Homo sapiens: one gene and its partner. The protein of the gene in region 2 interacts with the protein of the main gene of each other region in a biochemical or structural test. Each region holds a gene or a part of one and is shown on either strand. Other genes may lie near its edges. The genes, in order: EPM2A and NFU1.

What was found.
Region 1: the proteins of NFU1 (region 2) and EPM2A form a complex in vitro, tested with the Homo sapiens proteins (one study listed by BioGRID).

The regions. Positions count from the first base shown.
Region 1 is NC_000006.12:145,681,600-145,692,404, forward strand, and holds part of EPM2A (laforin), read right to left. Parts: intron 5,279-10,805; exon of another isoform or gene 5,245-5,278; intron 4,698-5,244; coding exon 4,523-4,697; intron 1,061-4,522; exon of another isoform or gene 810-1,060; intron 1-809. UniProt on the Homo sapiens protein: Plays an important role in preventing glycogen hyperphosphorylation and the formation of insoluble aggregates, via its activity as glycogen phosphatase, and by promoting the ubiquitination of proteins involved in glycogen metabolism via its interaction with the E3 ubiquitin ligase NHLRC1/malin.
Region 2 is NC_000002.12:69,432,234-69,443,605, forward strand, and holds the start of NFU1 (NFU1 iron-sulfur cluster scaffold homolog, mitochondrial), read right to left. Parts: upstream 5,203-11,372; 5' UTR 5,190-5,202; coding exon 5,128-5,189; exon of another isoform or gene 5,038-5,127; intron 1-5,037. UniProt on the Homo sapiens protein: Iron-sulfur cluster scaffold protein which can assemble [4Fe-4S] clusters and deliver them to target proteins.

The DNA of each region.
Region 1 (10,805 bases), on a different chromosome or scaffold from region 2:
TTTCTACATATGGCTAGCCAGTTTTCCCAGCACCATTTATTAAATAGGGAATCCTTTCCCCATTGCTTGTTTTTCTCAGGTTTGTTAAAGATCAGATAGTTGTAGATATGCGGCGTTATTTCTGAGGGCTCTGTTCTGTTCCATTGATCTATCAAAGGATAACTGTAGTCTCTCTATGGAGACAGGTGCTTGTCAGCTTATATATGCATCTGAATATTGAGAAGTACCAGAATGTTCTCTTTTACATGACATGTTCTCTAGGTTGCCATATGTCCTAGCATTCCCAGTAAAGTCCTATTTTCATACCCCATGTTCAGGCTAATTATGTAAAGTACCTCTTTTTACTCTCAAAGCATCCTGGTTGGAGAAAATTAGGTGGCTACCCTAATATTGCTCTCTCACACCTCTCTATATGTACACTTGCTATTTGCATTAGTCCGTTTTCACTCTGCTAATAAAGACATACCCAAGACTGGGTAACGTTTACAGGAAGGAGGTTTAATGGACTCACAGTTCCACGTGGCTCGGGAGGCCTCACAATCACGGTTGAAGGCAAGGAAGAGCAAGTCACGTCTTACATGGATGGCAGCAGACAAAGAGAGAGCATGTGCAGGGAAACTCCTCCTTATAAAACCATCAGATCTCATGAGACTTATTCACTATCACGAGAACAGTATGGGAAAGACTCGCCCCCATGATTCAATTACCTCCCACTAGTCTCTCCTACAACACATGAGAATTGTGGAAGCTACAATGCAAGACGAGATTTGGGTCGGGACACAGCCAAACCATATCGCTATTCTTCTTACCTTGAATTCCCTTTCCCAAATGTCCTGAGAAAAAGATGGCTTCACATTTCTGTTCAAGTTCTACGTCCTCATAAAGATTTCCTTGAATTAAAGATTTTTCCTGTCCCTTTTTACACTACATATATAACTTCATTACAGCAAATATTTAACTGTATTGCAGCTGTTTACATGTTGTCTTCCACTACAGCATAAGTTCCATGAGAGCAAGGATCATGTCTCTCCATTATTGATGGTCCAGCACTCAAGATGGGCTGCACAGAGTAATCCACACAATTCTTACTGAATAAATGAAGTTACCATTTATCTTATTATATAACATTTAATTTTTAGATATATATGTTCTAAAAAGCCTCATCCTTATAAAGGATATTGGCAATTCCATTCTGATATGATTTATCCCAACCATAAAAAAATTCTAGGCATAATTCCATTCCTATATTCAAACTAAAGAGTGAGAGTCTGTAATTACAAATTCTTAGTTGAGTTTGAATACCTCCATTGTATAAATGCTCAAACATATAATCTACCTGTCTGTATCTATTTCAGCAGCTAAGATAAATTCACAAATAATCTTAGCATTATACATTGTCAGATGAACATAGCAAACAGATAGAATTCGATGTTTTCAATTTAATAATGAAATATAAAATGCCTTTCTGACTCTTTTCTTTTAAACTGAATTCAGATTTTCATCTTACCCAGTTTCATGTGAAGGTGAATTATGCTGGAATTTTTAAGGGGAGTTGGACTGAAACAACTGAAGGTGCATTAAAATATTCCTTTTCTATTCTAAACTACTGTCCTTTCACACATGTAAAAATCACATGGAGATGTTGAAAAATAAAGATTCCCAGGATTTGGTGTGTGTGTGTGTGTGTGTGTGTGTGTGTGTGTGTGTGAGTGTGTATATATTAGATTATATATTATACTCCAGGTATACATACACATATATTATTTATTATTTTAATATATAAAGTATTATATAGTATACATACATTTTAATATATTACTATTTATAAGCATAGATATATTTACACCTTGCAGTGGATAACAGGTTGAATTACCTGAGAATTCAGTAGGATAGAGACTTGGATGTAAAACTATGTTGCTTTAAAGAAAATAAAGAAACGTACGCTTTCTTGCACAGTTGAGTATATGAACTAAGGTTCACTCTCACCTGCACATACAGCTTTGATACTGTAAGTGAAGCTGAAGAAATACTCTATTTAAAAATTAAAACATCAACTCAGAGAGCAAATTTTCTCAGAGTGAGAGGTGTACCCCACAACAGACCCTGCCTGTCTTTTCATTCAGGGTGGGGCGGAGGAAGTATGCAGGTGGGTTGTCTGATCAGAGTCTGCTGAGAAAGATAGGATCTGCCCACCTGAGCACAGCTTGCCCCCAACACCTCTCACAGGTACAGAGGCCAGTAATAGCAGAGGAAAATTATGACAGCCATATACAACAATCAACCTAATCTTTCACATAGTAAATATGAACAACTAATAATCATGTTACCTAAAACAATAATAACACAAAAAAGAAAGATCAAAATGAATGAAAAACAATTGATTCAGGAGGAAAAAGTATAGTTCCAGTAAGAGAAGAGAACTTAAAAATAACTCTCATTAGTATTCTAAGAAAGATTCATGAATATACTCATTCATAAACAAGAACAAACTAATATGCAAAAAGTGAATAACAGAATAAGTAAAAGTCCATGAAAATTAAGAATACAATTACCAAAATTAAGAAAAAAATAATCGATAGTTGAATTGGAAAAAAAGAAGCCTCTCAAAATGTAAAGCAATAAAAAAGATGACAAATATAAAATGTAAATCCAAGAGGTCCAACATCCATCTAAGGAGTGTCTCTAATGACAAAGAGCAAAGGCAATCAAGGAGAAGAAATAATCATTCAGTGGAAAAAAATCTCCAGAGCCCAAGATATGACTCTTCAGAAAAAAGGGTTCATTCAGGAAATGTGGTTCAGGATCATTTAAAAGAACCCATAAACATATCCTCATTAAATGTCAGACCATCTCAAGAAGTGTTGCTTCTCATTCCTTTCTCTGGATCTTCTGCTTCTCCTTGACTTCTAAATTGTGTGAACCAGGGCTCAATATTTTTGCTTCTTCTCTTTGTCTCTTCTATACTTCACTCATTTACTATTGTCTCATCTAGACTCAACATTTTGAATGCTATCTATGTCTTGATAACTGCCAATTTTATATCTTTATTTCCAAGCTCTCCATAAAATTTCTGACATCAAATCAATTTCCTTCCTGTAATCTAACAGACATTTCAAAAAATGACTAAAGTAGAACTTGTACCTCAATCCCTACTTCAAATTGCTCATCTCCTAGTCTTCCCCATCTCAGTAAGTGGCAACACCATTACAGTAGCTCAGGCCATAAAACCACGAGACATGCTTAACTCTTGTCTTCCTCATTCTGTGCATACAACCCATCAGCAAAGCCAACATCTACCAGAAGTTTGAAAGAAAAATGTGTTCAAGAGGACTATTAATTCCCTAAAACTATTGTGAAATTGCATTTTCTCTCTCTTTTACCTCTCACAACTCGGTTTATATTAATTGTATCTCTCATTCAAAATAACACATTCTTTAAGAATATGAGAATGCATCTCCTTGTGTATGGTACAAACACTGTAAGTTCTACAATAAATAACACTTACATAATATTTTAAATGTTGGCAATTGCTTTCAAATTTTAAATAATCGAAGTGTGAAAGACATTTATATTTACTAAGTTTAATGTAAATTCTATAAGCCTTGAAATTATAAAAGTAATTTAAAAGCAGGAGTTAGTAGGTGGAAATAGATGTGGAAAAAAATACAGGAACAAAAAAAATCTCTACTCTTACAATGTAGGAAACTAGGAGACACTGTGAAAAATTGATGGGTCAAGACATAGAATTTGTATGATGGTAAGTAACAATGGAACTTCTCAAAAAATGCCTGGTAGGGACTGGAGTGGGGAGAGAGGACAAGTATGAGAGATGTCAATTTCTTATGTGTAATAGAGGGGAATCAATAGCTATTTTTAAACTGGTACATTAACAAGCAACACATATGCATATTGTTTAAGGTTTAGATTTAATCTCAAGAAAAACTAACCATAAAGTGATTAAAAATAATCACTTCTGATGAGTGGGAAAGGAGAAAAGGATAATAAGCCTTATGTTTTATTTAGCAACCTCCTGGTTTAGGAATTAAATGAACAAATAAATCAAAATATTAACAAATAATAAAGCAGATAATCACATTCAATCTAGTTCTGTGCCTGTATTTTCACACATATTTATTTGGATAAGATTGTATAAGGAAATACCAATTTTTGTTTCACTGGTAGTCAGTAGCATAAAGGACACAAATATTAATTTAGTCTATTTTAGTGTAGTTCTTATTTTTAATCCACTACATAAGTACACAGATTGGTTAGCTACTATCTGGTCAAAACATATTGATGCTAGGGTATGCATTTATTAAAGAATTCTATTTTTAAAATCCTCCACATCTAGACCCAGAAAATCTCACACACTGATTCACTGTAATTTTCTCCTCAAAGTACTACAGGCCTATAGACCCCTCCCAAGTGAGGCACTGCAGTTTCGAACACAGTAAATATTTCCATTGTGCTAATGCTATCTCTTGTCCTACTTCTATGCCTATAAATATAGCACTATTTTTACCTTGAATAATGCATGGCTTGGTGGCCTGCAATATTAAAATAGAAGTCTGTTGTGTGCTTCATTTCATTGGTGTGCCCAGTGGCCTCAATCCAGTGTCCTATTGGGAGACAATACACACCATCCACCAAGTTGTTTTCATTGTAAGTACAGCAACGGTCATGATGAGGTCCATTGCCTAGAACAAGAAAAAATGATAAACAGAGCAATTAAATCAGTGTTTTGTTTAAATATCCTCAAAGCAGCTGATACAAAATTAATAGCAAGAAAAAAATAAACATAAAGCTACTTAATCTACACATTTCAGTATAAACAAAAAAGACTAGAGTGAAAAACAGAACGGTAGGAATTTGTAAAGAGCTACTTAGGAAAATCAGAGTTTTTTACTCCCTTTGAGTACATGGGTTATAAAAAGCATGTTAACTCTTTCAGAGCTTCATGGTACCTCTCAGTGCTCTAAGAGGCCATTATGAATCACTTTGCAGCCTGAGAAGCTCCTAAAAAAAGTTTTTAAAGCTATTAATGCCCCTGTATTATACACTTCTATCTTTCTGGTATGCAAATTTACGAATAAAATCAGGAATAAAGTGTTGTAGTATCAGCTCAACAAAAAAATGCATAATTATAAATAAATGCATTAATAAGTAATAAATGACCACATCAAATCTACTTTACAGGTAAAACAGTTATTATTATTGTTTTCAAATGAGGAAAACAAGTCTCACAGAGATTAACTAGCTTGCCCAAGGTCACAAAACTAGTAGTGCGGAGCTAGTAGCACCTGCCTCTCCTAGTCCCCCACCTTTCTGGCGTCTGATGCCTTTGTGATGCTCCCTGCTGATGTCACATGCACAAAGACACACCATCTTCCTTCCAGGGCCATGGATCAAAGGAAGCAGACACACATCTCTAAAAATATTATTTGCCTATTTCACGATTGCCCAGTATCAACTACACTAGTTGCTATGGTATGAATGTTTTTGTCCCCCCAAAATTTATATGTTGAAATCCTAACACCCAAGGTGTTGGTATTAGAAGCTGGGGCCTTTAGGAGATGATTAGGTCATGAAGAAGAACCCTCACAAATGTGATTAGCTCCCTTATAAAAGAGGGGTGAAAGAAACCCCTTGCTCTGTTCCACCATGTGAGAACACAGCAAGTCGTCGCCATCTATGAACCAGTAAGTGAGCCCTCACCAATCACTGAATCTGGTATGCCTCAATCTTAGACCCCCCAGCCTCCAGAATTGTAAGCAATAAATTTCTATTGTTCATAAGCTAACCAATATATGGTGTTTTGTTTATAGCAGCTCAAATGGTCTTACATACTAGTAAACCTTGATTTCTACAAAAATTATAATTCATACATTATTTTTACTACCTTTTTATCATCCCATTTCAAATCATGCCTCTCTTTATACTACCTAAGTATAATGTACTGTAAGAAAGACATGTAAGCAAACTAAATGCATGAGTGGTTTACAGAAATAAATCACATTTGTTATGAATACAAAAATGTGATTCATTTGTTCTTTTCTCTTTGTTCTGTCTTACAAAATATTTAACCTAAATTTGCTTGGCGTAAGCTCTCAAAAAATCCTTAAATTATTTGATGTTTCTTTGAGATATAACTCCTTCCATCAGACAGAAGGTACAGGATGACTCTCTTAATAAACCATTACTGATCTTCCTAGATCAGTCTCCTCTTTTTTCTCTTAATGGATTTTTTTTCTCGACGACTACAAGGTGCTGCACCACATCTCTATTAACCTTCATTTTTAATAGATAAAAACCAAACTACACTAGCAACCTCACTTCTAGAAACATATCCAACAGAAATATTACTAAGAAAAAAGAATTTCTGATGCACACAGAGATACATGCGTACAGTAATACTATTTTAATAGAAAATACTGTAAACCATATAAGTTTTTTTTCATTCTTCTACAGATATTTATTGAGACAGGTACTGTGCTAGGTCATGTTAAGAACTCAGATATTTATCATAAGAGCAACTAAAAATTTGAAATATTCTAAGCAGGCATGTAACATAACCAGATTTTATTTTAAGGATACCTCTCTGGCTACAGAGTAAAAAAATAATTCAAGAACAATCAGATAGAAGCAGAGAGTCCATTTAAGAAACTACTATATTGGCCTAGGTAGTTTATGATGAAGCTTGGTCACAGACTTTGAAAGGATTATGCAGATTCAAGAGGGAAAGGCCACAGGACTTGGTGATTAATTGGAAAAGGAAGGTGAAGATGAAAGGGGATTAACAATGCCTCTTAAGCTTCTAGTGAAAATAATTCAATATACAGTGGCACTATTCACTGAGATGCAAAATCTGAAAGAGGCTGTAAGGAAAGATCATCTATCTAGTTCTGGCAATGTTGGGTTTGGAGTGCTCTTTAGATATCCAAAAGGAGTCCTCAAAAGAGAGCTGGAGTTACTCATTTGACATTAAGACCAGAAATCTGAACTAAAAAAATAAATATATGAGTAATTTGAGTGTAAATGGTAATTGAAATAGGAACATAGATGAGTCACAAAGAAAAACAATATTAATAAGGAAAAAAGTTCTAGAACAAAGTCTGAAAGTTTTTCAATGTTTAACAGCCAGCGAGAGAAGGATAAACTTACAAAAGATGAATAGAGGAGCTGAAAAGGAAAAGTAGGAGTGACTAAGTGAAGCAGCAGAGCATGACTGAAAGTGTAAACATAGACTACAAACTGGATATGGTTACTTCTAGGAAATGGAATTGGATGGAGGGGAACTGTCATAGTCAACTGTTTTGAATTGATTGGATTAGTTACAAGGAGCGGGTGTTACTTTTTTAGTTAAATAAAACAATATCTGTGGCTCCCATTGGTCAGTATAATTGACTTACAACAATTGAATTATTACCTATTAAAAATATAATTGTTGAAGAGATCAAATATTCATAAATTACAATGGTCAAGAAGAATTATTTATGTGTCATCATCTTCATAAGAATTCTTCATTCCTAGAGTGATTTCTTTAATTACTCATTTTTACACATTTATGTTTTAGGCAACATTTTTAAAAGTCTTTCATGGATAGTAAACTGAGTTATTCAAAATATGTTCTAATAATTAAAATGTCTTTTAGAGGATGGGTTATTGTCTTTTTAATTTCACCTAATGAAATGGCAAAAATGAATAGTAAAATAATTTTGGTTTTGGAGATTTCTGCATGGAGAACTATGGAATAAATGTACTTTTCCCTAGTCCTCCCACTAAGTATAATTTAAAACCCTGAAAATTATAAATAAACAAACATAAGATAACTTTGAAAGACAAAGAGAAGAAGACAGACTATCCAGGGACACTGAGACCTAAGAAAAGACCTAAGTATTGAGTTCCCTGCATTTTCTTTTTGCCTTATATATCCCAGACTTAGATCTGAAGAAGCCAGCAACCTGGTAACACAAGGACAGAAAAAGAAAACATGACAAAAGTCCATTCTCTCTAGCCAAATGAAAAGACAAGCCTAGCCAGACAGAAATCTGTTTGATAATAACTACACTACTCCAGTCAAACCCACTGAAAAAATGTGGCCCCACACCCACTCAGGCCAGCAAAGGCCAAGCATGGGTACACTTCCACTTTTGTTTGCCAAGCTGTATTGCAGTGCCTCAACCCACTCACTATCATGGTGTCAGAGAAGGATGAGTAGGGGTCTGAAACTTTCAGCATCATCGTTGGCAATATAGTGGAGTCCAAGTGGAAAGGTGGACTTCCACCTCCATTTGGCAGTAACGAGGTGCCCCTTCTTTCCACTGAGATCGTGACAAAGGTGACCTAGTGGAAAGTCAAGATTTCCACCTCCTTCCCACCCGACCATCAGTGGATGCCATGTAGGAAGCAGTAACAAGGCATTCCTCCCTGTCTCAGCCAGGGAGCTATCAATGGAGGCCTAATGGAGAGTTAGAACTACCACCCCACTCAGGGAGGAGTCTGTTTGGTTTGGTTATGAATGGAAACAGTGTGAGGAACCTGGGTAATAAGGTGGGACCTCCATTCTTCTGCTGGAGTGGTGTCAGAAGAATTCAGTTAAAATCAAAGGTTTGCATAAGAGCTAACCTCAGGCCGGGCACGGTGGCTCACGCCTGTAATCCCAGCACTTTGGGAGGCCGAGGCGGGTGGATCATGAGGTCAGGAGATCGAGACCATCCTGGCTAACAAGGTGAAACCCCGTCTCTACTAAAAATACAAAAAATTAGCCGGGTGCGGTGGCGGGCGCCTGTAGTCCCAGCTACTCGGGAGGCTGAGGCAGGAGAATGGCGTGAACCCGGGAAGCGGAGCTTGCAGTGAGCCGAGATTGCGCCACTGCAGTCCGCAGTCCGGCCTGGGCGACAGAGCGAGACTCCGTCTCAAAAGAAAAAAAAAAAAAAAAAAAAAAGAGCTAACCTCATTACATAATACCCAAAATGTCTAGGTTTCAATAGAATGTTACCCATTATACCAATAACCACTAAGATCTCAAACTAAATGGAAAAAAAAAAAGATGCCGGATAAAGGCCAACACCAAGAGAACAATGATGTTAGAATTATGTGATAATTATGTGATAAAGATTTTAAGGCCTCAGTAACCCATTAGAACACATTTCAAACAAATGAAGAATCGGAATGTCTCAGCAATGGAATGGAAGATGAAAAGAGGAACTAAATATTAATTTTAGAACTGAAAAACACAATATTTGAAATTTTCAAAACTCAATAGATGGGTTTAAGAGCAATATGGAAGGGACAGAGGAAAGAATTCACAGACTTCAAGATAGAATCATGGAAATTACCCAATCTAAACAGCAAACAACAGAAAAGTAGGCTGAATTAAAAAAAAAAAAAACAGACACTTAGGGACTTGTGGTACTATTAACAGAAGATCTAAATTTATGTCATTGGAGTCTTGGAAGAAGAGGGAAAAGATAGTAGGGCTTAAAAGTACTTAAGAAAATAATGCCGGAAAACTTTTCAAATTTGGCAAGAGGCAAAACCTACAAATTCAAGCAGGTGAGCAAAGTCCAAACAACATAAACCCAAAGAAATCAATACCGAGACATGACATATTTAAACTTCTGAAAACTAACAACAGAGAAAATCATAAAAGTAGCCAGAGAAAAACAGCAATGTAAAGGAAAAAATATTCTAATATGAGCAGATTTCTCATCAGAAGTCACCAAAGGAAGTGTCATTTTTCAAGTGCTGTAAAAAAGAACAACTGTCAACCAAGAATCTTACTTTGTGACTATTTCCTTCAGGAAAAAAAGGGAAAATCAAAACATGCTTATGAAGGAAAACTAAGAAAATTTTGCCGCTGAATTATCTTAAAAATGACTAACAGAAGATGTCTAAACAAAAAGAAACTCTTTGAAAACAGGAAGAATGAGCACAGTAAACAAAATTATAAGTAAATAAGCAAACATTCTAACATTGTCTGATGCTATTCTACATGTATGTAAAGGAAATATTTAAGGCAATTATATTGCAAATGAGGAAGGACAAACGAATGAAAAAGGAGGTAAGTTTTCTAAAATTCACTCAAACTCGTAAAAGGTTGATACCAGTCAACTATGATGTTAGGTATATAATATACATAATGTATATAGAAATTCTATGTGTAAATCAAAACAGAATTCTAAAAAAATGTTCAATTATGAACCAGACATGCCACACAATCAGAGAAAAAGGAGGAAGAGAAAACAACCAGAAACAAAAAATAAAATGGCAAACTTAGGCTCTAACATACCAATAATTATGTTAAATAGTCTAAATACACCAATGAAAATACAAAAGTTGGCAGAATAATTTTTAAGTGAATCAATTATATGCTGTCTAGAAGCAATTCACTTCAAATTATATACACAGGTGGGAAGTAAAAGCATAGAAAAAGATATACTATGCAAACATTAATCAAAAAGCAGGAGTAGTTATATTACTATTATATAAAGTATACTTCAGAGAAAAGAAAATTACTAGAGAGGGGAAATTATACAATGTTTAAAGTATCAATCTAACAAGAAGACACAGCAACTTTAACTGTGTATATATCAAACAGTAAGGTGGTTAAATACGTAAAGCAAAAAACTGAGAGAACTGAAAGAATTTTAAAACTCCAGAATTATAGTTTAAGACCTCAACACCTCACCCAAAACAATTGTTAGAACAATTAGACAGAAAATCAGCAAGGATATTAGAAACCTCAAGAACACCATCAACCAACATTATCTAGTTGACATTTATACAGCACCCAATATAGCAGA
Region 2 (11,372 bases):
CCCTTGATAACCGGGTGTGCACAGGATAATATAACATTGAGGTATAAGAAACAGAATTGGGCTGGGTGAGGTGGCTCACGCCTGTAATCCCAGCATTTTGGGAGGCCGAGGCAGGTGGATCACGTGAGGTTGGGAGTTCAAGACCAGCCTGACCAACATGGAGAAACCCCATCTCTACTAAAAATACAAAATTAGCCGGGCATGGTGGCACATGCCTGTAATCCCAGCTACTCAGGAGGCTGAGGCAGGAGAATTGCTTGAACCCAGGAGGCAGAGGTTGCAGTGAGCCAACATCATGCCATTGCACTCCAGCCTGGGCAACAAGAGTGAAACTCTACCTCAAAAAAAAAAAGAAACAGAATTGTATCTACATTAGTAATTTATAACCCATAGTCCCAGACTCTTGGTTATACAGGAAGGAAGCAAATAACTATAAGCTTTTTTATTTTTTTAAAAAATTTAGAATTAGGCAATAGAGTCACATGGTTCAAAACTGGTAAGGGAAAAAAGCATAAATAGTGAAAGCCTCCCTCCTTTCCTGTCCCTTACGTTTCCCTCTCTCAAGATAACCTATATTACCTGTTTTGAAAAGTATTTCAATACTTCAAAAAATCTAAAAGAAAGTATACTATTGGGCCAGGGGTGGTGGCTCACGCCTGTAATGCCAGCACTTTGGGAGGCCAAGGCAGGTGGATCACCTGAGGTCAGGAGTTCGAGACGAGCCTGCCCAACATGGTGCAACTCCATCTCTACTAAAAATACAAAAAATAGCTGGGAGTGGTGGTGGGCGCCTGTAATCCCAGCTACTCGGGAGGCTGAGGCAGAGGAATCGCTTGAACCCAGGAGGCGTAGGTTGCAGTGAGCCGAGATCGTGCCACTGCACTCCAGCCTGGCCCAAAGAGCAAGACTCCATCTCCAAAAAAAAAAAAAAAAAAAGTATACGACTGTCCTTTTTGTTTTTGAGATGGAGTCTCACTGTTGTTGGCCCAGGCTGGAGTGCAATGGCACAATCTCGGCTCACTGCAACCTCCATCTCCCAGGTGCCAGCAATTCTGCTGCCTCAGCCTCCCGAGTAGCTGAGATTACAGGTGCCCGCCACCATGCCTGGCTAATTTTTGTACTTTTTAGTAGAGACAGGGTTTCACCATGTTGGCCAGGATGGTCTCGAACTCTTGACCTCAGGTGATCCTCCCGTATCGGCCTCCCAAAGTGCTGAGATTACAGGCATGAGACACCACACCTGGCCCGTCTTTTTTTTTTGAGACTGAGTCTCACTTTGTCGCCCACGCTGGAGTGCAGTGATGCGATCCCAGCTTACTGCAACCTCCACCTCCTGGGTTCAAGTGATTCTCTTGCCTCAGCCTCCCTAGTAGCTGGGATTACAGGTGTACACCATCACACCCGGCTAATTTTTATATTTTTAGTAGAGACAGGGTTTCACCACGTTGGCCAGGCTGATCTCCAACTCCTGACCTAAAGTGATCCACCTGCCTTGGCCTCCCAAAATGCTGGGATTACACAGCCAACGATCTTGATCACGCTTTTCGTGTTTTGTTTTGAGACAGGGTCTTGTTCTGTCACCCATGCTGGAGTACAATGGTGTGATCAGGGCTCACTGCAGCCTCAACATCCTAGGCTCAAGTGATTCTCCCACCTCAGCCTCCCAAGTAGGTGACACTACAGCTGTATGCCACCATGCCCAGCTAGTTTTTTTTTTTTTTTTTACTTCTGGTAGAGATGGATTACCACTATGTTGCTCAGGCTGATCTCCAGCTCCTGGCTCAAGTAATCCTCCCACTTTGGCCTCCCAAAGTGCTGGGATTATAGGCGTGAGCCACCATGCCCTGCCTTTTATATGCTTTTTGGATGGAAACATATTAACCCAGTGTTGTAACTTCACTTCACTTTTTTTTTTCTTTTTTTTTTTGTGAGACGGAGTCTTGCTCTGTCGCCCAGGATGGAGTGCAGTGGTGCGATCTTGGCTCACTGCAACCTCCGCCTCCTGGGTTCAAGCAATTCTCCGCCTCAGCCTCCCAAGTAGCTGGGATTATAGATGCCCACCACCATGCCCGGCTAATTTTTGTATTTTTAGTAGAGACAGGGTTTCACCATCTTGGCCAGGCTGGTCTTGAACTCCTGACCTCATGATCCACTAGCCTCGGCCTCCCAAAGTGCTGGGATTACAGGCGTGAGCCACAGCGCCAGGCCTCTAACTTTACTTCACTCTTACAGAGAAAACTTAATTGGCTATTTTTTATGGCTTTGACAAACTGAAAACAAAGGAAGAAAATGAAAGCAAATATTACTGGAAAAGGAAGTAAAAGGAGACTTTAATAGTAAAAATTCTTAAAATCCCAATGCAATTTACTTTAAAATCCGGTTTACTTGAAAATATCATCGCTATCCATTACCACTGCCACTTCATAGGAGCCATAGAAAAATTTTAAGTACAGGAGTCATTTATAATTGCCAATGGGTTCACTTTGCCCACTGTCCAGATACTGCTAATTCATCAAGACAGGGGATTTGCAATAAAGAGTTTAATTCACATGGAGCCAGCTGAAAGGGAGAGTGGAGTTTTAGTACTCAGTCTCTCTGGATCTGAGGCTAGGGGTTTTCAAGGATAGACTGGCAGGCCAGGGAACGGGTGTTGCTGACTGGTTGGGGATGCAATCATAGGGGTGCGGAAAATGATCCTCCTGAGTGCTCAGCCCGTTTGTGGGCGGGGCCACAGGACCAGTCAGAAATGCAAAAACCTGAAAAGGCTAATCTTAGGTTCTACAAGAGAGATGTTTTCTGCAGGAGTAATTGGGGAAGTTGCAACTCTTAGGACCGCCAGAATAATGGCTGGTAATCATTTACATCTACACCTTAGCAGAATTCAGGCTCCTCTCATCCTCCAAACCTGGTGGTCTTTCATTAGCTTTATAAAGGTGGTTTAATTTTGGGAAAGGGCTATTATCATTTAAACTATAAACTAAATGTCTCCCAAAGTTAGCTTGGCCCAAGCCCGGGAATGGGCAGTCTAGAGGTTAAAGGCAAAATGATGGTCAGTTAGAACGGTCTTTCACTGTCATAATTTTCTGTTAAAATTTTTTCCAAAGGCCAAAATTGTTTGTGATCATACACAAGATCACATTTATCTAATTATCTTCTGCTTAAAATAGGCAAGAAGCAACAGCGGCTGCCACATTTTTTTCTCTCTCTCACAAAACTGGAATTCTTCTCGTGGAAAAGAAAGAGTGGGCACCAATTAAGTATTAACAAAATACAGATGAACTGTTTACTACCTTCAATAATCTTTATATGCCATTGATAAGCAAAAGACTACTGGGATACTGTGGGACTGTAACCCATAGAGTTTCTTAGATGCTATTGGAGAGATAAAAGGATTGGCACCGAGGATTCAAGAGAACAATGGAATCAACACTGAATGGGAATCAAATAATCTGTGAAGTCCTGACTGCCACTCCCCACACTAGCTCCAGTGTTGATCACAGTAAGAGCTGTCACCACTTTATTTTGAGATGGAAATAATCTCGCTTTTCTCACTCTGTCACCCAGGCTGAAGTGCAGTGGCGTGATCTTGGCTCACTGCAACCTCCACCTCCCTGGTTCAAGCAATTCCCCTGCCTCAGCCTCCCAACTCGCTGGGATTACAGGCACACACCACCACGCCCAGCTTTTTTTTTTTTTTTTTTAGTTTCACCATGTTGGCCAGACTGGTCTCGAACTCCTGACCTCAGCCAATCCGCCCAGCTTGACCTCTCAAAGTGCTGGGATTACAGGCGTGAGCCACCACGCCCGGCACACCACTTTAAATTACATGAATCTATTACAGCACTCATGACTGTCATTATTTGTTAATATATTTTTCTTGCTAGACTGCATACTCATTAAGGGGAGAAACTATCTTCATTTCTAGCTGCTAGCACAATGGCCTCAGTTCTTCATCTCTACAATGAGATTAGTTTCACAGCTACCTCATAAATAATCCAGAGAATCCATGTAAAGTGCTTAAACCAGTGCCAGGCCATGCAGTAAGTGCTCAATAAATGGCAGCTGCTACCATTATTTAATTGGTGCCCAATAATTACTAATTGAGTGCAGTTCAAGGTTTGGGGTAAAAATGCCTTTTTCTATAGCTCAGTATCTAAATCTGTGAATACTCTGGAATTTGGAAATGCACTAGAAGAATAATATTCTCGTCCCTTCAGCCCAGGGAAAAGGCAGCAGAATGAATAAAGAGGAAGCACATTCCAACATACAGGTTTAAAGTCTTGTTTTTTTAAAGTAAGAGTGGATTACATTATTCAAGGAAGACATCTACTCAAACACAGGAGGTAACTAACAAAAAATTCTACCAACTTAAATCTTTTTAGGATATACATTTAAACTTCAAGAGCACCATTAACACTACAATGTCTAATACTCTAGAGGGCAAACTCTCCGTAGGCCATTTTCTCCAGACGTAAAATTAAGGTACACCTACATAAATGTCCTCTTAGCAATGTTCACAGAAGTCTTTGAAAGGTGAAACTCAAAGGTAGGGCTCAGGGAGGCGGAAAAAACAAGGGAACAGAGTGGGCTTAATGGTGGTGGGTGCAGGGAATCTAGGGGTCCTGGTTCTCGTCGGAATTCCATCACTTAGAAACTGTGTAACCTTGGACATGTCACCTCCTCTTTCAGGGCCTTACTGGGAAAATGAGGAAACGAGACAAGGTATTTTCTTCCCTTCTGTGTGACATTCTGATTCTGCGTTTAGAAGAGGAGGGAATGCACCCGGTAGAGGGCCTGGGGGCGGGAGAGGCACACGATTTTAAAACAGCTCCTCCGTTCTGGCTCTACAGCCAGTCTCTACAAGCTTCCGTACCGCAGAGACTCAAGAACTGGGTCTCTGAGCCTGAGAGGAAGCTCCAGAGAGTCCGCCCGGATTAGGCCACAGAAGCGCCGAGCTCCCGCACAGACAGCCTCAGGGCTCACCCCCAACTACGGCGACAGGGCGGACCCGCCGGCTCCATCAGATGCACTACCCACCCGCCTCGAGAGAGGGTCTGCAAGGCGGCGACCGCTCCGCTGGCTAAGCCCAGCGGCACACCTATTCGGAGCTCCAGGCTCGTCACCTACCGCCTGCGCAGCCCGGCGGCAACAGCCGCAGCTCCCCAGCCCCGCCTGGCCGTCGCCGCCATCTTAGTCCGGAGTGCCTAAGGGTCTCCCTGACAGAACCACGAAAGATCTGCGCAGCCGCAGGCTGGCCGGTAGCTGGGCGGGCACTGGGAAGAGCCCACCCTACCGGCTGCGGGCGGTCCTGCTGCGGATAAGTGCGGTGGCCTACGCGCCGAGGTTTGCAGGCTACTGCGTCACCCTGACCAAGAGAGGCCGGGGAACCTTTCCCGTTTGCGCCAACGCTTGGTTAATTCACGCAGCACTGTGAACGCATGCGTGTTTCCGTACTTTGTTTTCCCTGTTGGCTAGGTTTTTAGCTGGTGCTGGTGCTGCCTTGCGAATGCTGTTTCCAGCCCCTAAACCTGACCCATTCCCTCCTCTAGGACCCTACTCAGCCTCCAGGCCCAGCTCAGTGACTGCCCCCAAAGACTCCCTGGAGCATTCCTTCTAAAAGGTTCTCGCATTTCTCCTGCCCTTTTCCCATGGGTCTGATGTGGAACTGTGTCTAACCCTTCCTCATAGCTGTGCTTGTCAGCTGCCACTTGGTCATCTTGGACCAACCCGCACAGAGGATGTATCTGGTACAGTGCTGCCCTTCTCCGATTAACATGAGACTTGACTAGTTTCCAGGGCAGAGTGCCAAAGCCCATTACCTATTCTTCCAGAACCTTCCTGGAGTATTCCGTTTTCTCTAGGACAACGGTTCTCAAAGTGCGGACTAGGGGCCAAAAAAAAGCAGGAGAACACGTTAGAAATGCACGTTAGAACATGTTAGAAATCCTGGGCCCCACTTTATACTTACTGAGGCACAATCTCTGTAGGTGGGGACTAGAAATCTTTGTTACTTGCTTTTTTTTTTTTTCTTTTTCCAGAGACAGGGTCTATCTCTGTTGCCCAGGCTGGAGAGCAGGAGTGCGATCATAGCTCACCAAAACCAACTCCTGGGCTCAAGTGATTCATCCTCCAGCCTCAGCCTCCCAAAGCACTGGGATTACAGGTGTGAGCCACGGTGCCTGGCTTTTATTAGCAGTAGTAGTAGTAGTATTTTTGTAGAGAAGAGGTCTCCCTGTGTTGCCTGGGCTGCTCTTGAACTCTGCTGGCCTCAAGTGATCCCTCTCACCTGGGCCTCCAAAAGCTCTTAGGTTACCTCACCCTGCCTAGTAGTGTTTTAACAAACCCTTCCCAGGATTCTGATGCCAGCTAAAATTTGAGAATCACTGTTCTGGAAGACAGAGGACTGGTTTCCAGAATGGAAACAGCACACCTGTTGTTGAACAGGTTGAGGCCACACCCAAGACAACCCTAGTAATTTCTATGGCCCACAGACACATCTAAGAGGGTGGGTGGGTTTCAGGCCTGCAGCTCGCCCGGGCCCGCACACTGAGTGGGCTGTGCCTCCTACGAGTTTGGTTCATTCCCAATGCTGCGTACTTGCTTTTAACTACTAGTGATCTTCCCCCATCCAACCCCCCACCCAGTGATCTTCCCCCATCCAACCCCCCACCCACCCCCCCACACACACCCATTCTAGACCGCAAGGCAGTCCAAGGCTCTGTTTTTGACCCTCAATCAAAAATAAAATGTGGCTCTTCCACCTTGGAACAATCGTTCTTCTCAGACTTCAATTTTTCCCTCTCTGATGGATTCCTTATCATAAGAAAAATCCTGCCTTGCCCCAAATCCTCTTCCACACTCTTTTCTTCCCTTCAGAACCAAGTGGCTTAAAAAAATGGTCTGCACTCTTAGTCTCTAGTTTTTCACTTCCCACTCCTCAAACCCCTGAAACGAGGCTTCTATGTCCCACCATTCTTAGGGCCTGCTCTAGTCAAACCACCCACAGCCTCTGTGCTACTGTGTCCGGAATTGGTGGGTTCTTGGTCTCGCTAACTTCAAGAATGAAGCCATGGACCCTTGTGGTGAGTGTTACAGTTCTTAAAGATGGTGTGTCCAGAGTCTGTTCCTTCAGATGGTCAGATGTGTCCGGAGTTTGTTTCTTCTGGTGGGTTCGTGGTCTCACTGACTTCAGGAGTGAAGCTGCAGACCTTTGCGATGGGTGTTACAGTTCATAAAGACAGCACGGGCCCAAAGAGTGAGCCACATCAAGATTTACTACAAAGAGCAAAAGAACAAAGCTTTCATAACATGGAAGGGGACCCAAGCAGGTTGCCACTGCTGCCTCAGGCACCCTGCTTTTATTCCCTTATCTGACCCCACCCACATCCTGCTGATTGGCCCATTTTACAGAGAGCTGATTGGTCCATTTTACAGAGTACTGATTGGTTTGTTTTACAGAGAGCTGATTGGTCCGTTTTGACAGGGTGCTGATTGGTGCGTTTACAATCCCTGAGCTAGACATAGAGTGCTGATTGGTGTATTTACAATCCTCTAGCTAGAGTAAAAGTTCTCCAAGTCCCCACTAGGTTAGCTAGACACAGAGCACTGATTGGTGCATTTACAAACCTTGAGCTAGACACAGGGTGCTGATTGGTGTATTTACAATCCTTTAGCCAGACATAAAAGTTCTCCAAGTTCCCACCAGATTAGCTAGATACAGAGTGCTGATTGGTGCATCCATAAACCCCAAGCTAGACACAGAGTGCTGATTGATACATATACAATCCTCTGGCTAGACATAAAAGTTCTCCAAGTCCCCACCTGACTCAGGAGCCCAGCTGGCTTCGCCTAGTGGATCCCATGCCAGGGCCATGAGCAGAGCTGCCTGCCAGTCCTGCACCACAAGCCTGCACTAGAAAAAGTATCAGGCCCAGAGAGGCATTTAAAATGTAGCAGCAGTAATATCTCATTCGCCCTTGAGCTAAGTAACAACTTCTTGAAGTCACTTGCTATGTATACACTAGACTAATGTCAAGAAGCCGTTAACATGCCATATACCCTATAGTTCAACAGTGCATGGCCAGTCACTAACAATGTTATTTCTGTAAACCAATGAGAATACCTGCTGAGCATGGTGGCTCACACCTGTAATCCCAACACTCTGGGAGGCCAAGGTGGGCAAATTGCTTGAGCCCAGGAGTTTGAGACCATGCTGGGAAACATGGAGGGTTTACAAGCATGAGCCACTAACCCTGGCAGAATAAAAACATGTTATCTGAGGAAGGTGAGCCCCTTTAAATTATGAGGCCCATTGACTAGCCTAAAAAAGAAAAGTATCAGGGCCGGGTGCTGTGGCTCACGCCTCTAATCCCAGCACTTGGGAGTCTCTACAAACAAACCATGTCTCCACAAAAAATTAGCCAGATGTCATGGCATATGCCTGTAGTGCCAGCTATTTGGGAGGCTGAGATGAGAGAATCACCTGAGCCTGGGAAGTTGAGGCTGCAATGAGCCGTGATTGCACCACTGCACTCCAGCCTGGGTGACAGCATGAGACCCTGTCTCAAGAAAAAAAAAAAGTCAAATGAGAATACCTGATGAGCAACTTTTGTAATTGTTCCTCTCCCCTGATTTGTCTCTTTTTCTTTAAAAAGTTGAGCCTCTCCTTTTTTCCCAGAGCACTCTCCAAGGCAACCTGCAATATGGCCAGGGCTACAGTCCTCAACCTTGGCCCAAATAAATTCTCTATATTAATTTTGCCTCAGCTTCTTTCTTTTAGGTCAATATTTGCCTACAGTACTGTTTAATTAGGTTTCCTGTTACTCACAGATGATCAAAATCCTGTGTGGAGTAATATTAAGATGAACAAAACAATTCCTGGTCTCAGGGAGCTCCTGGAGAAGATTTGTAAATCAACAAAGGCACTAAGGGAATAGAACGCTATGTGGGGGAGAGGAAGCATTGTCAAATGTGAAATGGTGTTTAACTTTCTTTGGGTTATATTTATATGAATGAGTTATTAATGTGTGTTTCAAAATTGTGTGAGATTCCTGTAATTCTGGTATGTCTTAGTATATGACATCAGTAATAATTATGATTATTATGTTACATCGTTGTGTGCCACAGAAATAACCAAATTTCCTTGTCAATTGTGTCTTTAACCATGGCTGTTCTTTTTTTTTTTTTTTTAATACTTTAAGTTTTAGGGTACATGTGCACAATGTGCAGGTTAGTTACATATGTATACATGTGCCATGCTGGTGTGCTGCACCCACTAACTCGTCATCTAGCATTAGGTTAACCATGGCTGTTCTAAGAGTTTTGTCATCCACAGACAATTGTTGTTTTATTTTGATTCTTCTCAAAAAGTAGTTTATAATCAGCTGCAGTCCAAAATTTTCTTCTTTAAGGAAATTCATGGAAAGGACTCTAACAAATACTCTTGAATACAAGTTTCCGATAACTTTGGAGATCATAGCATTGGACTATGAAAATGCTTTCCAGGACTCTAATTAAAAAGCTGATGTATTCATGAGGATTGCTAACCCAACATCAAAAAGAACAAGAGTTAATTAATGGGACTAAACCAATAGAATATTAAAGTAATTTTTGTATGTGTGTGAAGTAATTTTTAATGACTGTTTTTTGTTTGAAACATTGCTGATAATTTTTGTTTTGTTTTTACAGAGTCAAGAAAACTTTTTTCTGTTGAGCTATTTATAGCTTACAACAAGTTGGGTAAAATATACCTTTCTGATCAAAATTTGAAGCATATTCTTTCTCTCTAAATTTCCCCAGAATTTGGAAACTATTTGTGAGATTCTTTTTTTTTTTTTTTTTTTTTTTTTTTTTTTGAGACAAGGTCTCACTCTGTTGCCCAGGCAGGATTGCAGTGGTGCAATCTCAGCTCACTGCAGCCTCAACTTCCCAGGCTAAACTGATCCTTCCACCTCAGCCTCCCAAGCAAGTAACTGTGACTACAGGTGCCCAACACCACACTCAGCTAATTTTGTTTATTTTTTGCAGAGACAGGGTCTCACTATGTTGCCCAGGCTGCTCTCAAACTCCTGAGCTCAAGCAGTCCTCCTGCCTCAGTCTCCCAAAGTGTTGGGATTACAGGTGTGAGCCACCACACCCGGCCTATTTGTGAGTATTCTTAATATATAGCAGTATAGTTATTTGCATAAATTCAGTAAGAATCTGTTTTCTTTTGTAACAGGACAAAATTTGAGACACTGGTTATTTTATCAAGGCTTTGACTGGAATAGCATTTTTTTCAGATGTACTCCGACTGCTTTGAGGAATTGACATTGACTTTATAGAGCCAATAAAAAGCCCTTTGGAAAGACTGGCCTGGTACCATGTCTATCCAATTCTTTTACAAAGTTCCTGACCTGTAATAAGTAAAGATTGTCACTTTCTGACAGGCCCAGGAAACTCAAGTTACTTTGGAACCTCAAGAAAAGTGGAATTCACCCCCAATTCATACAGGTATCTACAGGCATACATAAATCCTTGGCTTGGATAACCTCAAGAGGCTTTTAAAAAGTCAAATCTGCTATTCCTTATGAAATGGTTCCCACAAAGCCAATTTAAAAGGAGCCTCTATGGTCAATCACTACGCTTACAGCATTGTATGCAAATAATCAGGCCAAGTACAATAAGACTAAAACTTATTTTGTAAATAAATTGGTCCTACTATGATTTATCCTTGATAAAAATGGGAAACTAGAAAAAGAAAAATTACGTTTCAGAAGAAAACTATAGTGTACCTGTTTCACTCGCATCCGTGTGAAGAGACCACCCAACAGGTTTTGTGTGAGCAACAGGGCTGTTTATTTCACCTGGGTGCAGATGGGCTGAGTCTGAAAAGAGAGTCAGCAAAGGGAGATAGGGGTGGGGCCATTTTATAGGATTTGGGTAGGTAAAGGAAAATTACAGTCAAAGGGGGTTGTTTTCTAGCTGGCAGGGGTAGGGGTCACAAGGTGCTCAGTGTGGGAGCTTTTGATCCAGGATGAGCCAGGAGAAGGAATTTCACAAGGTAATGTCATCAGTTAAGGCAGGAACAGGCCATTTTCACTTCTTTTATGATTCTTCAGTTACTTCAGGCCATCTGGATGTATGTGCAGGTCACAGGGGATATGATGGCTTAGCTTGGGCTCAGAGGTCTGACATTCCTGTCTTTTTATATTAATAAGAAAAATAAAACAAAATAGTGGTAAAGTGTTGGGGCGGTGAAAATTTTGGGGGGTGGTATGGAGAGAGAATGGGTGATGTTTCTCAGGGCTGCTTCAAGCGGGATTAGGGGCAGCGTGGGAATCTAGAGTGGGAGAGATTAAGCTGAAGGAAGATTTTGTGGTAAGGGGTGATAT